Linked DNA regions of Homo sapiens. The protein of the gene in region 1 interacts with the protein of each later gene in a pairwise test. Each region holds a gene or a part of one and is shown in the gene's direction. Other genes may lie near its edges. The genes, in order: RSPH1, CFH, ZBTB5, CORO2B and CLSTN3.

What was found.
Region 2: the proteins of RSPH1 (region 1) and CFH interact in a two-hybrid assay, tested with the Homo sapiens proteins (one large-scale study listed by BioGRID and IntAct).
Region 3: the proteins of RSPH1 (region 1) and ZBTB5 interact in a two-hybrid assay, tested with the Homo sapiens proteins (one large-scale study listed by BioGRID and IntAct).
Region 4: the proteins of RSPH1 (region 1) and CORO2B interact in a two-hybrid assay, tested with the Homo sapiens proteins (one large-scale study listed by BioGRID and IntAct).
Region 5: the proteins of RSPH1 (region 1) and CLSTN3 interact in a two-hybrid assay, tested with the Homo sapiens proteins (one large-scale study listed by BioGRID and IntAct).

The regions. Positions count from the first base shown.
Region 1 is NC_000021.9:42,478,586-42,482,724, reverse strand, and holds part of RSPH1 (radial spoke head 1 homolog), read left to right. Parts: intron 1-16; coding exon 17-88; intron 89-4,139.
Region 2 is NC_000001.11:196,658,136-196,662,274, forward strand, and holds part of CFH (complement factor H isoform a precursor), read left to right. Parts: intron 1-4,139. UniProt on the Homo sapiens protein: Glycoprotein that plays an essential role in maintaining a well-balanced immune response by modulating complement activation.
Region 3 is NC_000009.12:37,455,158-37,459,296, reverse strand, and holds part of ZBTB5 (zinc finger and BTB domain-containing protein 5), read left to right. Parts: intron 1-4,139. UniProt on the Homo sapiens protein: May be involved in transcriptional regulation.
Region 4 is NC_000015.10:68,721,565-68,725,360, forward strand, and holds part of CORO2B (coronin-2B), read left to right. Parts: intron 1-3,796. UniProt on the Homo sapiens protein: May play a role in the reorganization of neuronal actin structure.
Region 5 is NC_000012.12:7,133,096-7,137,234, forward strand, and holds part of CLSTN3 (calsyntenin-3 precursor), read left to right. Parts: coding exon 1-51; intron 52-477; coding exon 478-673; intron 674-2,231; coding exon 2,232-2,440; intron 2,441-2,708; coding exon 2,709-2,858; intron 2,859-3,110; coding exon 3,111-3,296; intron 3,297-3,733; coding exon 3,734-4,015; intron 4,016-4,139. UniProt on the Homo sapiens protein: Postsynaptic adhesion molecule that binds to presynaptic neurexins to mediate both excitatory and inhibitory synapse formation.

The DNA.
Region 1 (4,139 bases):
TTCTCTTTGCTCGTAGCCTGTTGGCCCTGGAAAGTATGTATTTGATGTTGGGTGTGAACAACATGGTGAATATCGTTTAACAGATATGGTAAGTTGCGGAGCATGTAGGGTTTTGTTACATTAACAGGGAAGTAGCTGCTCAAAAATATTGATCCTGCAAGGTTGGAGGTGATTCGCCTAAAAGTTATGCCAACTCTTAGGCACTTTCACATTTTCATTTTCCTTATCTGCATGTGTTAGTACAGAACTAAATTGCCAGAAGCAAACAATATCATTTCCCATTTATTGCAGAACTCTAGACTTTGTTGATAGATACCGTTTTTGTTGATAGAAACTAATCCTGGCAGGGCACAATGGCTCACGCCTGTAATCCCAGCACTTTGGGAGGCCGAAGCGGTGGATTGCTTTAGGTCAGGAGTTTGAGACCAGACTGGCCAACGTGATGAATCCCTGTCTCCGCTAAAAATACAAAAATTAGCTGGGCATGGTGGCGCATGCCTGTAATCCCAGCTACTCAGGAGGCTGAGGCAGGAGAATCGCTTAAACCTGGGCGGCGGAGTTTGCAGTGAGCCAAGATCACGCCACTGCACTCCAGCCTGGGCGACAGAGTGAGACTCTGTCTCAAAAACAAACAAACAAACAACCAATAAATAAAAAACTAATCCTGAGTGGGAGGGTTCTAGACAGTGTTAGGTCCTGCAAGTGAAAACTGAATCTGTAACTGGTGTTGCCACAGTTTGTCCAGTGACTGTTAGCTTGTCCGTTGTGCAGCATGCTCCTCTGAACGTGCCGTTGGTAAGTCTTTCTCTTGTTTTTTCCTTTCCAATATCTAACATTAATATTAACACTACATTGACATTCCCTGGTTAATAGTAAAGCTAGTCAGCTAATATTGCCGTTATAAGGCATCGAGATGCGTATGTGTGTTGAGGTGGGAATATATGTGTTCCTATTCCTCTCATTATTAATGTCTGATCAATCCCTCTAGATAATTAGCAATTCAGCAACATTTCCTGACCCTGGTACTGGTTTTGATCCTTTTGACTTATTTGTTTAGATGAGGTCATTCTCACTGTAAGAAGTTTTGAGTTTTAAGGAGGAGTGTGGAATCACGCTTTTGTTTGTTTTTTGGTCTCTGAAGTTGTTGAGGTGTCCCCTCCTAGTGAGTTAAGAATATATTATCGTACACAAACTCTCCCATGTCTGCATACTTTCTTTCTGAAGAAAGCCGGGGAACGGCTTGTTTGGGTCTACCATCACATCAATGCCCTTTCAACCTGGGTTAGTCCTTTTTGTGCTGCTATAAAGGAATTCCTGAAGCTGGGTAGATTATAAAGAAGAGAGGTTTATTTGGTTCACAGTTCTGCAGGCTGTACAAGAAGCATGGCACCCGCAACTGCCTGGCCTCTGGTGAGGTCTCAGGAAGCTTCCACTCATGATGGAAGGTGAAGGGGAGCTGGTACCATAGCTCAAAAGAGGAGGAAAAGAGGGGAGGAGGTGCCAGGTATATATATATATATTTTTAACAACCAGTTCTTGTGTGAACTAATAGAGCAAGAACTCACTCATCACCACAGGGAAGGCACCAAACCATTCATGAGGGATCTGCCCCCGTGACCCAAACACCTCCCACCAGGCCCCACCTCCAACCCCGGGGGTCACATTTCAACATGCGATTTGAAGGGGACAAACACCCAAACTATGTCACAACCTGAGCCAAGTCACCTCGTTTTGTTTTTTTGTTGCTGTGTCCCTCGTCAAGCCCTTGGCATCACCCAGAGGCCCTGCTTTAAACCGACTCCTCGTCACCTTGGGCTCAGGTGTGAGGCTGTGGAAAGCTATCCTTGGTCACAGGAGGTAGAAGCCACACTGTGGGGAGCTTGGAAGGCTGCGGGAGATCCTGTGCATGAGGGCCTGTCCCGCACCTGCTCTGTGCCGCCCACTGCTGTCTCTACCTAATGCTCCATCCTTTCACCCCAAGGGCCCTGGCCTTGAATCCTAAGTCTAAACTCATCACTAATTTTTCAATTCAATGCTCTTCAATGCTCTCCAGACAGGTTTTTTTTTTTTTTTTTTTTTTTTTTGAGATGGAGTTTCGCTCTTGTTGCCCAGGCTGGAGTGCAATGGCGTGATCTCGGCTCAACGCAAACTCCACCTCCCGGGTTCAAGCGATTCTCCTGTCTCAGCCTCCCGAGTAGCTGGGATTACAGGCATGTGCCACCACGCCCAGCTAATTTTGTATTTTTAGTAGAGACGGGGTTTCTCCATATTGGTCAGGCTGGTCTCAAACTTTCGACCTCAGATGATCCACTGCCTCAGCCTCCCAAAGTGGTGGGACTATAGGCGTAAGCCACTGCGCCCAGCCCTCCAGACAGTTTTTTAACTTTTCTCATTTTTCTTCCTAGAGTTTGTTAGATTCTAAAACCAAAGGGAGTCTTTGAATCTTTATCCCTTAACCTCCCATGATCAAGTGACTGTCCGTGCTCCGTTGCTGCTTCCCAAGTGGCCACAGTCTGGACATCCCCGGGGCTCTCGGCCCTGACCTCAGCCACCCTCTTTTCCTGATTCCCGCTCCTGTGATATTCTACTTTCTGCACATCACTCTGGCCATGGTTATTTAGTTTCCCCAAACAGCCCATGGTTGCTCATGGTCCACCTTCTTGGCTGACCAGAATCCTGTGTGGCCTCACAGTGATCTGTCTTCCTTGCCTCTTCTCCTGCTTTGCTCCAGCTAAAAGGAACCACTGGCTAGGGGCAGGTCCCTAGAAAACCAGAAAATGAAATGGCCAAAATGCTTGATTTTGTTGCTAAGTAAGAGGCCCTACCTCCTCTGAGCACGAATTCTTCATGGACCGCAGGGTGCTCTAGTCTGGGTGGAAGGCAGCTTCCTGTAAGTCACCTGCATCTAACAAAACGTAGAGGAATTTGACATACTGTCCTCCCCCGAGGTTCCACTTCATTTATGTGTGTGTGTGTGTGTGTGTGTGTGTGTGTGTGTAACCTCCTACACACATAGTCAGAAGCCTAAGAAAGACAGTCGGCTTTAGGATTTGATTGTGACAGGGAGGTATTTAGTATTTTGCTGGGATTTCCATGGGGTTGGACACCTCTCATCTGTTCCCTGAAGGAACCTATTGGTTAAATTGATATCTTGTCAGCACTGGTAATAACTGTTTAGGGTTACTGGTGATTGAGCAAGTTTTTACATTTGTGTAGTGATAAAAATAAAGCCCATCTTATTAAGTGCTTTGCAGCTTTAGACTCTACTGGAAAAAGTTCCTAGAAGTCAGTATTTCAGGATGATGAGAAGAAGGTAGAAGGAGCATCAGTAACATCTAAGAGAGAATTACTGATATAAGCCCCAAGTCCTGTTGCTGTTTAGGAAAAACCACCCATGAAATAATGCAGCAACAACCTGAGGGCTTTGTGGAAGGCCTCCCACTGTGCTGTGGGGATGGATTAGGATGGTGGTGGAACAGAAGGGCCTCCGTGTTCTCTCTCCCTAGTAAGGGGAATGTATCCCTTCTAGAGTAGGGCTTGCCAAGCTGCAGCCCACGGCTCACTCCCTGTTTCTTTTTAAATTATGGTTTTATATGTACGTTTATAGAGTTTGAAATTTGCCATTTTAAAGCATGCTTTCAGTGGCATTCAGTACGTTCAGTGTTGTGCAGCTGTGAGAATGATGCATTTCTGGAGCTTGTCCGTTATCCCAGACAGAAACTCTGTACCTATTAAGCAACAACTCCCCATTCGACCTCCCCCAGCCCCTGATAGCTTTTAATCTACTTTCTTTCTCTATGAATTTGCCTATTCTAGATGTCGCATATAGATGAATTCATTCTGTATTTGTCCTTTTGTGTCTGGCTTCTTTCATTTAGCACGACGTTTTCAAGGTTCTTGCTTATCCATTTGTCTGTTGATGGACAATTGAGTTGCTTCCACATTTTAGCTATTATGAATAATGCTGCAGTGAACATTGGTGTGCAAGCATCTGGTCGAATCTCTGTTTTCAGTTCCTTTGGTTATATACCGAGGAGTGGAATTGCTGGGTCATATGGTGATGCTGTTTCGCTTTTTGAAGAACTGTCAAATGTTTTCTACAGTAGCTGCAGCATTTTACGTTCCCACCAGCAATGTGA
Region 2 (4,139 bases), on another chromosome or scaffold:
TTATATAACTATTTTCCTCAAATTATAGTAAAAACATTCCTACTCTTTACCAGTAGTTAAACGTATTCACACTCTTAATTCATGGGCTAAAAAAAAACTTGATTTTGTTTAGTATTATTCTTACTTTTTTGAGACAGGGAATCACTTTGTCACCCAGGCTGCAGCGTACTGGTGCAATCATGGCTCACTGCAGCCTCGACCTCCTGGGCTCAAGCAGTCCTCCCACCTAAGCATCCCAAGTAGCAGGGATTACAGCCACCTTGCTCAGGTAATTTTTTTTTTTTTTTTTTTTTTGAGATGGAGTCTTGCTCTGTCGCCCAGGCTGGAGTGCAGTGTCGCTATCTCGGCTCACTGCAAGCTCCGCCTCCCGGGTTCACGCCATTCTCCTGCCTCAGCCTCCCGAGTAGCTGGGACTACAGGCACCCACCACCAAGCCCGGCTATTTTTTTGTATTTGTAGTAGAGACGGAGTTTCACCGTGTTAGTGTTAGTCAGGATGGTCTGGATCTCCTGACCTCGTGATCTGGTGATCTGCCGGCCTTGGCCTCCCAAAGTGCTGGGATTACAGGCATGAGCCACCGCGCCCGGCCTGCTCAGGTAATTTTTAAAATTTTTTGTAGAGACAGGGTTTCACCACGTTGCCCAGGCTGGTCTTGAACTCCTGGGGTCTATTGATCCTCTTGACTTGGCATGTCAAAGTGCTGGGATTATAAGCATGACCCACTGCATCCAGACTAAAACTAATTTTAAATTGTAAAATAAAGCCAAATGAATTAAAGCTTCACCAATGTAGTGTTTTGTAAACAAAATTAACTGGCAATTAAATGACTTGTAAACGTAAGATGAAGTATTCATTGTTTAAACTCAAATACTTAGATATGATGGCTTAGTCTACTCATTAATCTAGAATGAGAAAAATGAGATGGCTATTTCTTTTAGTTTTAAGATAAATCACATCTCAAAAAAATGTTTCTGTGCCTTTCAATTTGTATGCATCCTATTTAATAAGCCCGTTGTACATACATGCTGAGAGTTTGACTACTTGGGCCAAAATAACCGTTTGTTGTCTACTTGAAGGTGGTTCAACTGAGCTTGAACATTCGATTGTTAGTCAATTCAGGCAAATAAAAGTTATGTCACAAGATATACCTAATTATTATTAGAACTCAGTGCAGTGAATCATTACCTTAAATACTTTTGCTATGGCATGAGTTGATAATGATGTAGGACAGCAAGCCCCCAAATTGGGTCTTAGCCTGGGAAGGTTCTTGGTTTTGTCCAGTAAAGAATTCAAGGGTGAGCCTGTGGTGTTAAACAGCAATTTTTGTTGAAGTGGCAGTGTATAGCAGCCTCAGAGGCACCTCTCCTTGCTAAGCAGGGCTACCCATAGGCAGTGTGCCCACAGTAGCAGCTCAGAGGCAGTTCTGCACTCATATTTATATGCACTTTTAATTATATGGAAATTAAGAGGTAGTTAATGCTGAAATTGCCAGGAGGAGGATGGTAACTTCCGGTTGTTGGGTCATTGCTGTGGAAAGGGCCTGTAACTTCTGGGTGTTGCCATGGTAATGGTAAACTGTCATAGCACACTGGTCTGTGTGTCTTACAGGGAGGGGCTTCCACTCAGACCTGTTTTGGATAATCCTCAATTTGGTCCAGTGTCCAAGTCCCATCTCCTATCTCAATAATACTCAATACAATAATGGTTAGAACAAAAGCAGACAGGAAAGTGTATCTGAAGTGAGAAGACCTAGACATTAATGAAAATTCTTCCACGAACTATGAAAAACATTGTTCTTCAATTGTGGGGAGCTTACATTTTGATGTGGGGAGATAGATAGAAAACCTAATGAACAAAAATAGTTATAGCATTGTGAAAAATTTTGTGAAGGAGGTAAAGTAGGGCCTAAGAGAAAATAGAGATGGGGATGGTAGTATGTAGAGACATTAGGTGGGCTTGGTCTTGGGGACTAGAATGAGTGGATCACTTTGAGGACAGAACATTTGAGTAGAGGCCTGAAAGATGAGACAAAGCCAGTCATCAGAAATCTGTCGTAAAATTATTCTAAGAGGAGGAAATAACCCGTGTAAAGGATCTAAGGAAAAAATAAGTTTGAAATGCTCAACAAAATATAAACAAATAAATCAGCGTGACTTTGCACAGTAAATACATGGGAGATTTAACATGATGAGATCCGAGAAAGTGGCAAGAGCCAGATAAGGGGTTCCCAAACCAAGGAAAGGAGTTAGCAATGCTGGATAAGTAAAAAGTGAAGTCATAGAAGAATTTTAATCACAGGAATGACATGACCAGATTTGCAAGAATCACTTGTCACTCTGTGAATAGACTGAAGTAACAGGAGAGTAGAGGACTGGAGGCTAGTTAGCAGGCAAGTTTCATGACCAAAGTGACAGATGATGATCTGAACTAAGATTTTGAAGATGGTAGTAGGAGCAAGGGAAAATAGAACAGGGGCGGTCATATCTTTTTCTTACAAGCAGAATCAAAAGATGCCATTTAACACTGATGGAAAAAGCACCAGAATTTTAAGTACTATTTGAAGAGAAAAGGTAATCAATATGATAATTCTTTATATATAGTAAACATATTCACAGAGTAAATATTGTGAGAAGTTGGTAGGAAGATTTTGTGGAAGAGATGTATCCTTGTTTTCTACATCTGGTTGTTAAAAGCAATGAACTATATTTGGAAATCAAGAATTAGGGGCACAAACGTATCACCTGGAAATATAATAATAACCAGAAGGGAAAGCATTTACTTCTCACTAGGAAGTGAGCGGGCTAAACTTTTTTTGTGTTAATGGATTACTTTACTTATTTATTTTTTCCAATAACCTGAACATCATCAAATGGATCTAAATTTTGAAAGTGAAAAACAAACATATCAGCTTGTAATTAATCAGTTTTCCTTTTGTGCGGAAGGGGCCGGGGATTGTGTTGTTATGATAGAGTATTAGCACCATCTAGTGGAGTAGAATATGTTTACTTAAATTATAAACATCGAAATAGTGCAATGTGGAATCACATATTATATGAGTTCACTAATACAAATTTGCAAAAAGGTCAAGGGAAAATTAGTGCCCATAAAAACTTTCACATTATTTTGTAAAATATAATTTTATATGGTGTTTTCTTTCTTATGAAATATTGCAAAATGTTTTCATATGGATTTGTTCCACCATGTTAATGGGCACTTCTAAAACTTTTTTCTTTGGGCTGCTACAACAAAATATTATTAACTGCCTAGCTTATAAACAACAGGAATGTATTTCTTACACTTCTGAATGCTAGAAAGTCTAACAGCAAGATAGTACCAGCAGATTCAGTGTTTGGTGAGGTCTGCTCTCTGGTTCATAGACAGTGCCTTTTGGCTGTGTCCTCCAATGATGAAAGGGACAAGGCAGCTCTGTGGTGCCTCTTCTATAAAGGCACACATCCCAAATCATGACAGCTCCACCTTCACGACCTAATCACTTCCCAGTGTCCCCACCTCCTAATACTATCACATTGGTAATTAGGTTTAAACATATAAATTGGGGGTTGTGGGGAGGTTGCATGTATTCAGAGCATAGCATATGCCTTCTTAACTTACTAAAGTCTAATAATAATTTATCACTCAGGATTCAATGCGGGAAGCTTAAGTAGAAGTAGAAGATTACCTATCTATCAGTCAATTAATTGATTGACATACCAATCTCCTATCTACCTACTTAAAAAGAGGTTTTGTTTTGTTTGTTTTGTTTTGTTTTGTTTTTTAAATAAATTGCCTCAAGGAATTGTGAGCATGAGATAAGCAAGTCTGAAATCCACAGGGCAGGTAGTCAGAAAAGGAAGATTACAGACAGGATGGAACTCACAGGAAAGGAAGCTGCTTTCCACAGAATTCCCTCTCTTTTTCAGAGGAGCCTCAGCCCTATGTTTCAGACCTTTCAAATGATTTGATCTGGCCTATCTAGATTACCTAGAATGATCAGCTTGTTTAAAGTCAACTGATTGGGAGTGTATCTGGCAACATATTTTCTCACCAACATTTAGATTAGTTTGACTCAATAACTGGGAATGCTGACTTAAGCAAGATGACTTATTAAGAAAACTGTCACAGCTCATTAATACCTTTCT
Region 3 (4,139 bases), on another chromosome or scaffold:
AGTAGAGACGGCTTTTCTCCATGTTGGTCAGGCTGGTCTCAAACTCCTGACCTCAGGTGATCCACCTGCCTTGGCCTCCCAAAGTGCTGGGAGTACAGGCTGAGAAGCAGGGGCTGGCATGCCCATGCCCTGTTTTACATTTTTTGTAAATCTCTTTAATATGTAGTTTAATAGAAGACAGCTGGATTCCATTAAATGCTTCTGCATTCATTTTGCCGTGATACACTATTTTGATTAAAATATACCAAAAAACTCCAGCATCACACAAATATGTAGTTGGAAAGGGAGGATTATTTCAGTAGATTTTTCAGATAATTTTGGATATTCTTACTCTGATACTGTACCAAAACTCCACAAGTGGTATTTTCTTAAGTGATTAGTGCAATGTGGAATCTGAAATTATGTCAATGAACTTTTCATATTCTGTTGCATTAAAATACATTAGCTTATGTTTTGTACCTTGAATGAATTTTTACCCATACCTTGTTTTATAGCATTATTGTTACATGGCTACATGGTCATTTGGAAAATACTGATTTCAGAGTTATGCAGATCTTCCAAACGTTGACTCATTTATTATACAATGTAAAAAAATCACATTTCATTAATATCACCAATGATCTGTCAGAAGAATTTGAGCATGTGGGAAGCTGTCAAGCTCACAGTGACAGATACAAGTTTTCCAAAATACTAATTTTCACCTGAATTCTCAAACTTTTTTATTGGCAATAAGTAGTACTAAGTTATCTTATTTAAAATAACAGGCTTGTTTCATTCATTTTTTCATTCATTTTCAAGAAAATGGTAAATACTTCTAAATAACCATAGTTTGTCATTCGTTCTTTCAAGTAAAAATAGTGTCCCATGAGAAAAGCAATTAGTTGAGCCACCTCAAAAACTGCACAAGTGCTTTTTCTTGAGGCAACTTGTATTTCAGAATGCAGGAGGAAAACTTCAGGTGTACTTCCCATTTTATCACACATATTGAAAACAGGTACTCAAGAGTTGAGACTTAATAACAGATGTAGGGAAGGGGAGGCTGGGTCTCCATTGGAGTGAGCATTTGGTTAGTAGTAGCTGTGTTCAGCACAGATGTTTGGCATTCTGACCTGATTGTTCCTGCTGCCTAGCTTAATTTCTTCCCAGTTCAATCTTACGTATCCAGCCTTCCCATCAATTCCATGATCAAACTAATAGCCTTTCAGTAAATTACTTTTATGTTTAGGATCAATTTTTGTTGCTGCAACCAATGACTCTGGCTGATGTGCTGCTTAAACTTAAGAAAAAAACCCTAAAATACTTTTTAAGAAAGTAATCTCAAAAGTGATGATAGCCTTTAGTTCAAAAGTATGTGCCTCATGGTTAACCTTTCTGATGACTTGTAATTATTAACATCAGTTATGAGCAGTCACTATCCAATACCTACCTTTCTAGCCATACTATTTTCCAGCCAAATCGAATACATTGCTTTACCCACCTCAACCCCTTCTCCACCTTTACCTCTGTCTAGGGGTTTGTCCAAATCCAACCAAGACCTAGCTCTGTTGTCAACGCTACCATGAAGCTAGAAATAACCTTTGCCTTCTCCAAACCATTGAGAGGTTCTTTCACCTCTTATGTGGCACTTAGTGCCTTCCACTTTGTAATATCGTTATTCATGTATATCTTATTTCCACTAAATACCTGTGACAGTTAGTACTGTCCCATACAAATCTATGCTCCACAGCGCTTAACCTTGAACAAGTAAGCACTTTAAAACATTAGATGATGCTGGCATGGTGGCTCACACTTGTAATCTCAGCACTTTGGGAGGCCAAGGTAGGAGGAATACCTGAGCCCAGGAGTTCGAGACCAGCCAGAGCAACATAGTGAGACCCGTCTCTACAAAGAATAAAAAATTAGCTGGGCATGGTGACGTGCCTGTAGTACCAGTATTTGGGAGGCTGTGGTGGGAGAGTCACTTGAGCTAGGGAAGTGGAGGCTACAGTGAGCTGTGATTGCACCACCACACTCCAGCCTGGGTGGCAAAGCAAGACTCTGTCTCAAAAACAAAACAAAACAAAAAACATATTACATGAATGAACTTGTATACAAAAAATACACAAGTACCTTTATGGGCTGTTGAGGTCCCTTGAGCTGTATACTACCTAGCTCCAAGCTGCTGGGCCTCTTTTCCCCCTTAGTGGGTCAGCTGTCTCTTTCTGCAGCTATCAGCTTAACTTCATTTAAGCAGCCACTCCTTGCTCTCATTCTGGAGTTGCTGCTTCAGTTAGTTAGGGAACTAGAAAAACTTGAATTTTGTTTCGAACAAAAGACTGTGTGAGGGCTTAAGGGACTTTCCTATGAGAAAATCTTTCATCCATAGTCTTTGATCTTTATTTTGGATATTCTGAGACTTTTTCTTCTGGTTTTTGGCTGATTTTAGAGATAGTTGTGATTCTCAGAAAAGTGATTTTTGGGTAATACATTATACTTCATCCATATATAGCAAAAGTTTATTCAGCAAATAATTTACTGAGTATTTTATGTCAGGCACTTTGAGAGAGAGAAAATACAGTTCCTGCCCTCAATAAGCTGTTTTAGTAGAAAAAGCATTTGAGCTTGTACTAGGAACCTAAGTAGGGCACTAATACCTTTTCTTATTCAAACTGAGTTACAGAGCTCTAGGTCAATTCATCCCTAGGGATTTTGGCCTGGAAAACAAGGTGGCAATGTGGAGAGAATTGGAGAGTTAGGTGAGATGGTCAGGGCTTCCAGCTCGCCTTCCTCAGTCATGCTCATCTTTAGTCACTAGTGGAATTTTCCTGTTTTATAGAACTAATCTGTTCAGTTTCTGAGCCAACCCTGACAGAGCAGAACCAGAGATATTATGACATTAGTCATGCTGACAGGTCTGGTTTCTTGGGGTTAACCCAGGCATCATTGTGCCCACCTAGTTCCAGCCTTCCCCTACTCCCACTTTGCTGGTCAAATTAGAACAATGGATGGATGTTCCAGTACTCCGCTCTGTCTGACTTGGAGCCCTGTCAAAATTCCTAGCCTGGGCCAGGTGGGTGGGTGGCTCACGGCTGTAATCCCAGCACTTTGGGAGGCTGAGGCAGGTGGATTGATTGAGCCCAGGAGTTTGAAACCAGCCTGGGCAACATGGCAAAACCCCCTATCTACAAAAAATACAAAAATTAGCCAGGCATGGTGACACGCACCTGTAGTCCCAGCTACCCAGGAGGCTGAGGTGGGAGGATCACCTTGAGCCTGGGAGGTCAAGGCTGCAGTGAACCGTGATCAGGCCACTGTACTCCAGCCTGAGTGAGAGAGTGAGATCCTGCCTCAAAAAAAGAAAAAAAAAAAAATCCTAGCCTGCACTTCCGGAGCCTGTGGTAGGAGGATTGCTTGAGCGCTGGAGTTCAAAAGCAGCCTGGGCATATTGAGACCCCACCTGTATTTAAAAAAAAAAAATCCTAGCCTACTTGAGTGGGTCCTTGCTTTGTTCTGCTCTCTGACTTTTGTTTTCATCTATATCGTCTCTACAAGTGGAGGAAATGTTCTGTCTAGTTATTTTTCTGCTGATGAAATGGGAGAGTTCTCTGAACCCCCCTCGCAGGACGTGTGACAATGATGTGGCTCGTCTGTTTGGCTGCCACCACTGCTAAAACCCTTTACAGGAGGAGGAGCACAGAGACAGGCAGGGGCAGGAGCTGGGGCAAGCTCTTTTAGGCTCTGGCCCCACGGTGGCATCTAGGGGTGGGTGCCTGCAGCTCCCGAAGCCCCATTGGGCATGCTACAGTGCTCTTTTAGCTTGCCATATGCAGATGGGTTAAGTGTTAACCAGCTCAGTACCTTCTTGGTATTTGGGTTCTTGTCCAGCATCCAGGAAGAATTGGGTCACACATGGACTTGAAGGATGGTGTATTCGGGATTTTATTGGATGATGGAGGTGGCTCTCAGTGGGATGGATGGGGAGCTGGAAAGGGGATGGAGTGGGAAGATGATCTTCCCCTGGAGTTCGGCTGTCCTGTGGCCGATCTCTCTGACCATCCCCAGCTGAATGGCTCTTGACATTCAGATGCTCCTTCTCTTCTCTCCTTGGCCACGCTGCTCTTATGCTCCTCTGCACATTCTGTTTGTCTGCTCATCTGCCT
Region 4 (3,796 bases), on another chromosome or scaffold:
GCGTGGTGGTGCGCGCCTGTAATCCCAGCTGCTCAAGTGGCTGAGGCAGGAGAATCACTTGAACCCAGGAGGCAGAGACTAAAGCTGAGTGATGGGTACTTGGGGGTTCATGGTGCTATACTTTCTATTAATATAGATATATAACATTTTTCATTTAAAAAATTTTTAAGTGTTTTCTTGTATTTATTTATTTATGTTTTAGAGACAGAGTCCTGCCCTGTCTCCCAGACTGCAGTGCTGTGGCACGATCATAGCTCACTATAACCTCAATCTCCGAGGCTCAAGCAATAATCCCACCTTAGACTTCTGAGTAGCTGGAACTAGCGGCGTGTACCACCATACCCAACTAATTTGTTTTTAAACATTTTTGTAGAGACAGGGTCTTACTATATTGCACAGGCTGGTCTTAAACTCCTGGGCTCAAACAGTCCTCCCACTTTCGCCTCCCAATGTGCTGGGATTACAGTCATGAGACACTGCGCCCAGCTATTTTCTTGTTTTTAAAAGAACTCTACTCTTTGAAGATAGAGACACAGGGGTCATTGTGATAGCCCAGGAGGGCAATAACAAGGGCCTGAGCTCAGTTCTGGCACTGGGTCTGGAGAAGGCAGGGTTGAATAGTAGTTAAATCAAGCAATATTTCGCTGTAGACTTGCCTATGGAATCAGAATTGAGAACCTGGAGGAAAAGCTTAAAGGGTCTCAGAGCAGACAAAACAGATGCCACAATCTACACCAAAGTTGTGCATCTTCCTCGCTGGGAAGAAGCTTTCTCAAAGCCTGCTGACTCTGCCTTTATCCACAGTTTTAATCATCGTAGCAGTTCGGAAGCAGCCAGTTAGAAAGTGGGGCTGTCAAAGGTGGACGCATTGATCTAAGTGTGAGGAAACAACTGACAGCTTGATGCGAGGGAAAAGTCCTACGATTGTACAACTCAGGAACTTTACTAAAAATCGCTGAATTGTAAGCTTAAAATGAGTGACTTTTATGGTGTGTGAATTACACCTCACTAAAGCGGTTTTTTTGACAAAAGTGGACCAAAAAACAATGCAAAGAAATTTTGAGAACTTGGAAGACGCAAGAGTGTGTAGAGTCATTTAGTGCAAAGGCAAATAGCACGTCATCCCTCTCAACAGATGTAACTGGGACTGGTGGTTTGTTAGTTAACAAAAAATATTTTTTTAAGTTATATTTTTTTAAGTTAGTTAAAGGAGGCAATCATGGCTGGGCACGGTGGCTCACGCCTATAATCCCAGCACTTTGGGAGGCTGAGGCGGGAGGATTGCCTGAGGTTAAGAGTTCAAGACCAGCCTGACCAACATGGTGAAACCCTGTCTCTACTAAAAATACAAAATTAGCCAGGTGTGGTGGCGCACGCCTGTAATCCCAGCTACTCGGGAGGCTGAGGCAGGAGAATCACTTGAACCCAGGAGGCAGAGGTTGCAGTGAGCGGATATTGCACCATTGCACTCCAGCCTGGGCAACAAGAGTGAAACTCCGTCTCAAAAAAACAAAAACAAAAGGAGAGAATCATAAAAATGATACATACATTCTTTTTTTTTTTTTTTTTTTTTTTTAGACAGAGTCTTGCTCTGTCACCCAGGCTGGGGTACAATGGCACAATCTTGACTCACTGCAACCTCCACCTCCCGGGTTCAAGCAATTCTCCTGCCTTAGCCTCCCAAGTAGCTGGGACTACAGGTACCCACCACCATGCCTGGTTAATTTTTGCATTTTTAGTAGAGACAGGGTTTCACCATGTTGGCCAGGCTGGTCTTGAACTCCTGACCTCAGGTGATCCACCTGCCTCAGCCTCCCAAAGTGTTGGGCTTACAGGTGTGAGCCACGGCGCCCAGCCAATAGATACATTTGGTTTCTTTGTTGTTGTTGTTTTGTTTTGTTTTGTTTTGAGATGGAGTCTCACTTTGTCTCCCAGGCTGGAGTGCAGTGGCATGATCTCGGCTCACTGCAACCTCCACCTCCCGGGTTCAAGCAATTCTTTGCTTCAGCCTCCCGAGTAGCTGGGATTACAGGCACCTGCCACCACACCTGGCTAATTTTTATATTTTTAGTAGAGATGGGGTTTCACCATCTTGGCCAGACTGATCTTGAACTCCTGACCTCGTGATCCACCCACCTTGGCCTCCTAAAGTACTGGATTACAGGCGTGAGCCACCGTGCCCGGCCGATACCTTCTTTAAACCATTTATTTTTGTTTTAAACATAAAACATGCGAGGTGTAGTGGCACCCCTCTAGTCCCAGCTACTCAGGAGGCTCAGGTGGGAAGATCGCTTGAGCCCAGGAGTTTGAGTCCAGCCTGGGCAACATGGCAAGACTCTATCCCTAAAAAATAAAAGTAGGCCGGGGTGGTGGCTCACACCTGCAATCCCAGCACCTTGGGAGGCTGAGGGTGGATCACTTGAGGCCAGGAGTTCAAGACCAGCCTGGCCAACATGGTGAAACCCCGTCTCTACTAAAAATACAAAAATTAGCCGGGCGTGATGGCACACACCTGTAATCCCAGCTACTCCAGAGGCTGAAGCAGAAGAATACCTTGAACCCGGGAAGCGGAGGTTGCAGTGAGCCAAGATCGCGCCACTGCACTCCAGTCTGGGTGACAGAGCAAGACTCTGTCTCAAAAACAAACAAATAAATAAATAATAAAAATAAAACATATACATTCATTTAGCATATTTTGATGCAGGACCAGGACCTTTTCTTCAAGGAGGCCCTCCCTGGTTGGAATCTGCCATGTCTTTCACACAAATCACACCTTAACTCCCATTTCCAGTTTCCATTTCTTTTAGGTAGAAAAATAATTTAAAGTTCATCTGAAAGCAAAGTCCTAGTTTTTACAATGTTTTCTCTCATCTTTTTTTGAGACATTGAGGTATAATTTGCCTATGGTAAAATTCATCCTCTGTAGTGTGTCGGTTTAAGAGTTTTGACAAACACACACAGTCATGCAGCCACCATCAGCCAAGATATAGAATATTCTCCAGTCTTTTAGGGCTAGATCTTCCACACCCAATTCGGCCACAGTTTTTTTAGCATCATCTTTATCAAGATTTTCTAAAGCATTTAATTAAGTTTTTATAGAAACAACAACTCTCTTTTTGTGCTCATTTCATCAATTTATATTATATTTCATTAAATTATGCAATTACAATAACAAATGTAATTCACACCAGAAAGTTTGAGACCAAACACAATTGACTGTGGGTAACATTCAACTCAGGTGTGCAGGAGCCTCAAGGAGCCTGCTGCCTTCCAGGGCTCGGCGTTTTGTGGACATCTGTCAATATGCTTTACAGGAGAAATGGAGGCGGGTTAAGCTAGAGAGTCATTGGGGTGAAGATCTGCCAGGATAGCTGTACATGAATCCCTGACCAGTGCAAACTTTGGTATTCTTGTCATAGTTCCTCATCAGTAGGGAAAAAGCTAGATTCCATTCTGTATCCTGAGCCTCCTTAAGAAGAGAAGGATACAAAGCATTTTAGAAAGTTCTAAATTATCAGCACAAGCCGGGCATGGTAGCTTACACCTGTAATCCCAGCACTTTGGGAGGCTGAGGTGGGTGGATCTCTTGAGGTCAGGAGTTCGAGACCAGCCTGGCCAACATGGTGAAACCCAGTCTCTACTAAAAATACAAAAATTATCCAGGCATGGTGGCACATGCCTGTAATCCCAGCTACTCGGGAGGCTGAGGCAGGAGAATTGTTTGAACCCAGGAGACAGAGGTTGCAGTGAGCCGAAATCATGCCACCGCACTACAGCCTGGGCGACAAAGCGAGAC
Region 5 (4,139 bases), on another chromosome or scaffold:
TGAATCCACCACTCTTTGCCTTGGACAAGGATGCCCCGCTGCGCTATGCAGGTAATTGGGATTGGGGGATGGCAAGGCAGGGTAGGACAGAGAAAAGTGGGTGGGAGGGCCAAGAGCAAGGGAGGGAGGGAAGGTCCTGGGAGTGATGAGAAAGTAAGGGAAGATAAAAGTGGGCTCAAGGAGGGGAATGGTCTCCACTGAAGAATGGAGATTGAGTCAAGGATGCCAGAAAAGGACATGGCCAGGCAAGGGTTAAACACATCATGATTTTGTCAGATCTCAGGTCTGGAGGCTCTGGGAGGTTGCTGCTCAGGGAAGCTGGGCTTAGAGTTGCGTGTTTGATCATTAATGCTTTTGTGCCTACAGGAGAAGGGACAGGGCTTTGGGAGGAGAGGTGGAGCTGGACCCCAGGTGGGGAGACTGAGGGTGGGGAAGGAGACACAGCAGCCTCACTCCTCCCCTTCTCCCCTTTGCCAGGTGAGATCTGCGGCTTCCGGCTCCATGGGTCTGGGGTGCCCTTTGAGGCTGTGATCCTTGACAAGGCGACAGGAGAGGGGCTGATCCGGGCCAAGGAGCCTGTGGACTGCGAGGCCCAGAAGGAACACACCTTCACCATCCAGGCCTATGACTGTGGCGAGGGCCCCGACGGGGCCAACACCAAGAAGTCCCACAAGTGAGGAAGTCCTTGTCTCCTGCCCCATGTGTTGCAGGGTCCTCCTCCCTGCTCCCAAGCCCACCATCCTCTGTCCGTGCGGTCATCGAATATCCACCCCCACCCGCTGCTGTTCCTAGGACTTAGGGAGCCCCATCCCCTGCTGTTCCTAGGATTTAGGGACTTTCAGGCAAGGTGACAGAAACGTATAGTAGAGTTCAGTGGATCTAATCTTGGCTTTGCCTCTCATGACCTTGGGCAGCCTAGCCTTTCTGGACTTGCTTTTCCTTATCTGTAGAATGGAGATTGTGATGACACCTACTTCATAAGGCTGCTGTGAAGATTCAAGGAGATGGTTTGTGTTGAAAGCATGCACCACAGTGCCTGATACACGTTGAAGGGCACAGTACATGGGCATAATGATGAGGAGGAGAGCAAGAAGGAAGAGGATGAACACACTCAGCATGCATCCAGTTCCCTTTCAACTGCCCCCTCCAGTCTATTTGCAGTGTATACCACACACACGATCCCTATCATACACATATAGCTCTAGGTGAGGGTGGGCAGGCGATGGTTGTAGCAAGAAAGAGGCTCGGGTCTGGGACACCTACGCTTGTTGCCAGCTAACTTCTTATTTGAGAATAAGAGAAAGATCTTCAGTCAGGATTCCTGAGCCACTAAGAGGCACTAGAGATAAAATGCTCTTTGTGACTCAGTTTCCCATTTGAAGATAGGACCCTTGCCTCTGGGGCCTGGGAGCCTGGGTCTTGGCCTGGGGCAGGGCTCAGCATGAAGGGCCTCGACCCAGCTCTGCTTGCCCCGGTGCATGACTAGGGAGGGGCCGCATGTGCGGGAGGCAGCACTGCCCACACGTACTGTGCAGACATGTCAGATGACTTGTGACCTTTGTACACATGCCATTTCCCTTCTTATGGCTGGTTTTAATTTGGCTTTTACTCTGCATCTTCCTTGCTTATCCCCCCGGATCTGACTGTTGTGAAGGAAGGCCCTGCTGGATTTTATGCCTTACCCCTCCTCTTGGCACCCTGACCCATAGCATTTTGCACAGAAGTCATCAAAATCAGCTCCTGAGCACCCCTGGGCCTTGTTCCTCATCCCCTACATCAGTCCTCCTTTCTTTGGGCCCTCCCTCTGGTGTTGTCCTCTCCCTGGCATGACTTTGATGCAGCTTGGTGCCCTGTGGGGTGGGGAGGAGCGTGCTGACTGCCTCAGTCTCAGGGATAGATGGGCAGGCTCCCTCCTGTTCTGGCTCTCCGTCGGGATTCCTGCTTGCTCCTTTCTGGCATATGGGTGTACCGTGTCGAGGCTGTACCTTGGTGTACAGTATAAGGCTGTATCTCGTTGTGCCCATATTGAGGCTGTTTGTTGGTGTACAGTATTGAGGCTGTATCTTGGTGTACGGTATCGAACCTGTCCCTCCATGTGCCGTATCAAGGCTGTATCTTGATGTACCGTATCGAGGCTGTACCTCGGTGTGCTGTATCAAGGCTGTATCTCAATGTATAATGTCGAGGCTGGCTGACGTGTCTTCATCCCTCCTTCTCTCTGGCATATGCAGGGCCACTGTGCATGTGCGGGTCAACGATGTGAACGAGTTTGCCCCAGTGTTTGTGGAACGGCTGTATCGTGCGGCTGTGACAGAGGGGAAGCTGTACGATCGCATCCTGCGGGTGGAAGCCATTGACGGTGACTGCTCCCCCCAGTACAGCCAGATCTGCTACTATGAGATTCTCACACCCAACACCCCTTTCCTCATTGACAATGACGGTGAGTCCACCCCTGGCTTCCCTGGCCACCCAGTTCCCCTTGAGCACCCACCTCCCTCAGGACAACCCAGGGTTGCATTCTCCACTTTTGCCCCTCAGACCCTCACCTCACCCTTCTTCCCAAATGGAGCCTTCTCCTCCCAGATGCCTTTTTTCCCAGCGTCCTGCTGCCTAACCTGCCTGCTGCCCGATGATCTCAGACATCCTCCCCTCCCTGCCCTGGGCTTTCTCCAATGCTCTAATGCTCTGTCCTCCTGACCCCACCCCAGGGAACATTGAGAACACAGAGAAGCTGCAGTACAGTGGTGAGAGGCTCTATAAGTTTACAGTGACAGCTTATGACTGTGGGAAGAAGCGGGCAGCAGATGATGCTGAGGTGGAGATTCAGGTGAAGCCCACCTGTAAACCCAGCTGGCAAGGTGAGAGCTCAGCGCTGTGCCCCATCTTGTGAATCATCTTTTTTCTTGGTCTCTCTTTCTGTCCTTTCTGACAATCATGGGGGCCAGGCTAGGGCTTGGATGATATTGGGGCAGGCTTGCAGCTATCTACTCTAGCCGGGCCATCCTGCCAGGAGCCCCAAACTGTCCATGGACATGGCAAGAGGAGCATGGAGAGGGGAGGCTGCTTTACCCTTCTCTCTCCCCATCACCCTCTCTGTCTCACCCATGCAGGCTGGAACAAAAGGATCGAATATGCACCAGGTGCTGGGAGCTTGGCTTTGTTCCCTGGTATCCGCCTGGAGACCTGTGATGAACCACTCTGGAACATTCAGGCCACCATAGAGCTGCAGACCAGCCATGTGGCCAAGGGCTGTGACCGTGACAACTACTCAGAGCGGGCGCTGCGGAAACTCTGTGGTAGGTGTGCCCCCAACACTGCCTCAGGCCTATCCCTTCCCATCCAACCTCTGTCCAAACTTTTCCAAGACTCTGCTTTACATCACCACTGGCCATCCACAGGTGTTTATCCATAGAGGTTGTGACACGATTAGCATTTGCGGCCCAAAAGGCAGGTACATATGTCTTTGGCAAAGATGCATAGTCATCGCACCAGACAGTCACCGGATGCATGGTGGAACAATGGTAGGGCGAGATGAAGAGTTGGAGAATGGGTTAACTGGAGAGATACTCTTAGAAGTGAGTTCATCCCTCTCTTGTCTTTGAAAGGCCATAAAAGGTGGCAAGACGTGCTGTAGGAAATCTTTTCCCATCAGTCCCTCTTTCCCTGCCTCCTGCCCTTTTCACCATCTGCTGCTTCTTGGCTCTGACACTTGTGCCTCCTGGGGCTCCCACAGGTGCTGCCACTGGGGAGGTGGATCTGTTGCCCATGCCTGGCCCCAATGCCAACTGGACAGCAGGACTCTCGGTGCACTACAGCCAGGACAGCAGCCTGATCTACTGGTTCAATGGCACCCAGGCTGTGCAGGTGCCCCTGGGTGGCCCCAGTGGGCTGGGCTCTGGGCCCCAGGACAGCCTCAGTGACCACTTCACCCTGTCCTTCTGGATGAAGCATGGCGTAACTCCCAACAAGGGCAAGAAGGAAGAGGAAACCATCGTATGTAACACTGTCCAGAATGGTGAGCCTCCCCTCCAGGCACTAGCCAGAGGGGGAAACTGGCTTCTTGTCCCGCCTCTGTCACTGCCCAGTGTGTGACTGTGAACAGGTCACTTCCCCTCTCTTCATTTGTGAGGTGCAAGTGC